2 separate regions of the Homo sapiens genome follow, and region 2 is linked to region 1. A link means that fine-mapping ties the variant in region 1 to the expression of a gene that starts in the linked region. Tissue or cell type: whole blood. Region 1 holds a variant in brackets; the other region holds the start of a gene. All regions are shown on one strand. Distances are from middle to middle.

Evidence for each region. PIP is the estimated chance that this variant, and not a neighbour inherited with it, causes the effect.
Region 2: it holds the start of ROBO1, and the variant in region 1 is fine-mapped to the expression of ROBO1 in whole blood (TOPMed, PIP above 0.99).

The regions. Positions count from the first base shown.
Region 1 is chr3:79,018,372-79,021,137 of GRCh38, reverse strand. The region is part of intron 3 of ROBO1 (roundabout guidance receptor 1); the gene reads left to right. Among named protein-coding and RNA genes, the nearest start is that of MIR3923, 490 kb to the left of the region's middle. The variant C/T (reference allele first, on the strand shown) is at 1,323.
Region 2 is chr3:79,766,660-79,769,425 of GRCh38, reverse strand. ROBO1 (roundabout guidance receptor 1) reads left to right here and starts at 1,428. Exons shown (of 31, transcript NM_002941.4): 1 at 1,428-1,674.

The sequences.
Region 1 (2,766 bases):
AGGCTGTTTACTGAATTTATAGTCAGTTTTCTCAGGATTAGACTATCTTTCACTTTCAAAGATAGGTGCTGTTAACCAGAGTTTCCACAAAATGTCGCTCTAAGGTCGTTGGTTGCACCAGCAGCAACCAAAATCAATGTACAATTTGCTTTTAAATTTTTATCTTCCATTAGGTAATGAATGTGCTCACCTGAAAAGACATGGAAAAGCACAACACTATGTAGAAAAGAGCAAATCCTCCTTCTCTGCCCTATCCATTGCGCAGTTCTGTCCTCCAGAGGCAACCACCGAAAGCAGCTTCTTACATGTACTGCTAGACACCAAATAATTTTTTTTGAAGTTATGGTACACAACTCTGTAGATATTAATTCTGCCATTTATTCAGCATTCGGCATGTTAGGTATTTCACATAGTGTGTCTTTTTATTTATTTATTTATTTATTTAAGACGGAGTCTCGCTCTGTCGCCCAGGCTGGAGTGCAGTGGCAAGTTATCTCGGCTCACTGCAACCTCCGCCTCCTGGGCTCAAGCAATTCTTCTGTCTTAGCCTCCCGAGCAGCTGGGGCTACAGGCGAACGCCACCACGCCCGGCTAATTTTTGAATTTTTAGTAGAGACGGGGTTTCACCATATTGGTCAGGCTGGTCTCGAACTCCAGACCTTAAATGATCCGCCCGCTTGGGCCTCCCAAAGTGCTGAGATTACAGGTGTGAGCCACAGCGCCTGGCCACTGTGTCCTATTTAAAAGAAAGAAAGAAAAATGACTGACTCAATGAATGAATGCCTTTCAGACGTGTCAGGTTTGTTTTGCTTTGTGTATTTTTTGTTAATGCAATAAAATATCTCGAGAACAGAAACAGAGAAGAGAAAACAGACCTGGTCACAGAGCTATAACTGGCAGGTTGGGATTTCAGGGCGGGTATACTGAGTGTCAAACCTATGCCTGACTAGCTTCTCCTAACTGCAAACTCTGGGCTTGTCAAGATTGTTTTTTGCATTTGTTTCTCTCTCTCTTAAAATTACATCCCCATTGTTAGCTTTCTAATGTGTGGAGTATGAAGTTGAAAGAGAGAGTTTCAACTGAAACATGAGGAAATGATCCCAAGGCCCAACCCTGTGCCTTATGATTTGGATATCTTTTCTACAAGACCTTCAACAACTGCAACTTAAAAGAAAAGGATGGTTGTAAGAGACTGCCCATCTACTGATATGTTCTGGATAGTTCTCTGTTTACCTCCTGTCCTAAAGCCATGTTGCTCAAAATTGATTTTTTTTTTTTAAATGGGAATGGGGAGAAGTGAGAGTGGAGTTGAGAGTTTATTC[C/T]AATTCCTGGAAGCGGCAAGGAAGAGGTTAAGTTGGACCAGGAGGATTTTTGAAGTCTTTGGCTGGGAGGTTCCATTTGGAGAAAGGTGCAGGGGAGCTAGGGGTGGCGAGAGAAACAAGACAGTTTCTCATTCGCCTGGATTTCCGATTCCGAGCAATTGGATTCTCACCTGAGGGCGCAGTTGGGCACCCCTGGCTTGTGGATGGAAATATTGAGGAGCAGAACTTGCCTGACCAGCGCCTGGAGAATAGAGTGAAGCATGGAAAGGACCACGCGGCCCCTTTAAGTATTATCGGGCCGGGGAGGAGAGGGAGGGAACTGGGAGCCGCGGGGACTGTGGGGGAAACCCACAAGCAATTGAGCTGGAGAGGAGGCAGCGTGAGAGCAGAAACTTCAGACGCCGCTGATCCGGGAGGAGCTGGGGTGAGCCGCGGCGGCCGTCTCTCCCACCCGCAGCAGCATCCTCTCTGCCCTTCTCTGCCACCCCGGGGAGAGCCGGGAGCTGCCTCTTTACAGCTTCCACGAGCCAGGGGTGCAGGCAGCTGCCCCCAGGAAGTTTGGGCTTCTGCGTAGTTTAGGGGTGCCTGCGAGCGCCCCAGAGGGCGAGGGGCCGAGGGCGATGTTGGGCGCCGCGCGGGGCTGGGGGCGCCCAGAAGACGTGCGAGTGTCCGCGGTCCTGCTGCTGTCTCCAGTACCCTCCGCATCCCCCAAGTGATGGGAACAAGGGCCCGCCCAGGCAGCCGCTGTCGCCGCACCGCCCCCTCGCTCGCTCTCTGCGCGCGGAGTCACCCAGTCACACTCCCGGCACCCCGAGCCCTTCCTCCGGAGCTGCTGCTTCTACTTTGGCTGCTATCGCCGCCGCCGCGGGTGGCCCGCTGCTGACTGGGCTCGCCGGGAGACGGAGAAGCACTTTTTGGCCCTCCCTCAGCAGCTCTCACACCCCAACTTTGCCGCCGCCGCCGCGCCTGCCCTCGCAGCGGCGCTCGGCCGCACATTGTGGGGGCGCACGCCGGGAGGCTCCGCAAGACCGTGGAGGCAGGAAACGGCACTACTGCGCTTCTGCCTCGGCTCTTTGTTGTTCGCTTTGGATGGTTCTTGAAAGTGTCTGAGCCTCCTCGGAAATCCTGGGGCCGGAGAAGACAAACCTTGGAATTCTTCCTCTGCAAAAGTCTCTGAGATACTGACAAGCGTCCGGAAAGGTCGACGAGTAATTGCCCTGAAAACTCTTGGCTAATTGACCCACGTTGCTTATATTAAGCCTTTGTGTGTGGTGTGTGGCTTCATACATTTGGGGACCCTATTTCCACTCCCTCCTCTTGGCATGAGACTGTATACAGGATCCACCCGAGGACAATGATTGCGGAGCCCGCTCACTTTTACCTGTTTGGATTAATATGTCTCTGTTCAGGTAACCCCGCGTCTTCTTTCTTCACCCTTGATCCT
Region 2 (2,766 bases), 750 kb before region 1:
AAGTTAACACTTCTGTTGTCAAGGGTTACTGATTGGGGGAAGGGAAGGGGCTGTAAAGGGAAAGAGTTACGGAAATGAAGAGGGATTGTAGCACACACTACATAAATTCAAATGCTTTACATGTATTTGGAATAAGATCTCGAGTCTGTTGTATTTTTGCATTGTGTTTTCATTTATTTAGTTTACACATAGGTAGTGAATTTATAGGTTGGTTGATGTTAACCTTATCCAGAGTGGCCCTTTCCAACAATGTTCATTCAGTTGTACATTACATATATGTAATAATTTTGTAATTAAATTGGAATTTATCACAATTATTTACATCAAAGACAATAAAATTATGTTACTTCCTAAATTATAATATCAGTAAATATCGTATCTAGGATTTTGTGGAAAGTCTATGTCATTTTAGTTTAAATAAGGATTTCTCTTTTCCTCCACAAAATTAAAGGTCAAAGAAAACAGCATGTTTAAGACTTCAAATTAATATATATTAAGATTCAGCATTTAATATTCTAATTCTTAAAATAACTGGCTTTACCGATGATGAACTAAAGTGATTTTGCACACTATTACAATATTTCAAATTGCTAGTCACCACAGGTCGGCCTCACTTTAAATCTCCTTGTTATGCCAATTTGCATTACTAATGAACTTGCTAAGAGAGAAACTGTAAAAAGATAATGTAGCAATTAATAGTAAATGCTTGACATACTGTGACATTATAATACCTTTATGTTGATTTATATCTTTATGTCAATATTTACAAGGAAAATATTTTTGAATTTCTAATTTTGCGAAGTAAAAATGATGCTGACGCCATTGTCATTGATGGAATTTTTTCTGTAGCATTTGACTAATATAACCCGTGTTTTATAATTGGTAGACTCATATTTTAGCTTCTACTATCTACTACCCATGTAAGGTATTTTATTTGTAGTAGCTATGAATTGTAAATACAATTGGGTGTTGTGTGTACCTACGTGAAGTGCAGAAGTATTTGATTATATAAAATTTCCTGGATTTATATGAGAATAATGCATAATAGAGAGCAAAAGAGGGTTTTCCTGCCAAAAGTGTCTGTGTGAATTTTCCTTCGAAAATGTTCTTTTAAAATCCTTTGTATGATCAAAGCCACTCCACACAGACAATTAAAAGCAGCTATGGAATGATAGATCACATGACAGGAGTTAAATGTAAGGGTTTTTTTTTTTTTTTTTCCTCCCCCCTCGGTTAAACATCGCAGCAGGCATTACAATACCAGAGGTAACGAATCAATTAAATCCATTTTCCCCTCGGCGTCTCCAAAGCTGCGTGCCTAGTGTTGCTGTGTAGTTTAGACCGGAGCAGTAGGACCCAGGGGCCTCCGCAGCCACCAATAGAAGCGCACACTTGGACCTATTTGTATGCAATGCCTTCTGCTCTGCGCATTAATAGTAATACAGATAACGGGTTTGAAAGAATTCTCTACTGAAGAAGGATTGAATTTTTCCAGGGTGCTGATACAGAGAAGAAACCCGACTTCACTCTCTCCCTATTTCCCCACTCTTAGGTTTAAAAGTCTGTCACCTTTCGCTTGGTTTAAACTCGGAAAGGTCTCAGTGCACAGCAAAGTTGCAGGGCTGCGTCTGCACTACGGAGCCTCTAGATTGCTGAAAACAGTCTTATGGAAGGGTAAGTCTCGGAAATGGTTGCAAGGGAAGTGACAGCTGGCTTTTGATTTGTAAAAGGGGACACGCTGGGTTTTACACTAGTGGTTGTTGGAGTGCAGAATGGTTGCCGAGAGGACTCTGCAGTTTATCCAGAAATTGTGGCTGATGCGCCAGGGTGTTTTGGGGTAGAATCAAAAACCTTCAGGCTAAATCGGAAATTGCAGCCTTGCGATCGGGAGGGATTCAACAAGTTTTCCTGCAGGGATGCGATGTTTGTTTCTTCCTTGCCAGTTGTGCAGAGTGTCCGTTCCAGGTAGGCTGCGGCTGCTTAACAAAGAAGTTTTGGAATTTGTTTGTTGTGTGTGTGGCTGGGCTAACCCTTGTTGGAGTAGGTTTCGTGCCGCTTTTGGCTTCTTGGGGGCACACAGCGGAATTTGCTCTAGGGATGCGGCGAGCATCAGCGGTGTAGTGGGCTGGGGCCGGGCAACTTTGCAGCCTAATCTCAGTGCCGCTGACCGCACCGTTGTTCGTGATGTGAGCTGACTGAGGCATAGACACGGGCAGGCTGCAGGGAGCTTCCAAACTTTGAAAGCATTCTCCAGGAATGGATGCGCGTGGGGGCTTTGAAAATAAGCGTTACTAGGTGGATTTTGGTAAACTCTTGGCGGTATGTAGGCAGTGGGGACTTTTGACACTTGCATTTCCAACCTGCAGGATTTTGCTTGAAAACATGGTGCTGATGTGAAGACGAGAGCTTAAAGCTAAGCCAGCGGGGACTTTGAGGGAGGAAATGAGGGAGGGAAGGAGGAAGAATGAGAGAAGACAGATGAATGAAAAAGGTGCGTCCCATCTTTCACACACAAAAACCACACGAGTGGGACGAACCAGGAAGCGCTCCAGTTGGTGGCGTTTAGCTGGAAAACGTATTGCAGGGAGGTCCAGGAGCCTCTGCATTATTGATGAAACGCCGTGCCCTTCTGGGGCCCCTTCTTGCTCCTTCTCCCTGCCCCATCTTGCCAGCCCCGCTTCCATGAGCCTTCGGTTCCAGCGTTGGCGCGGGTGCGGCTGCGCGCGCGGCTGGGTCCCACAGCTCTGAGAACACAATGGGGAGAAG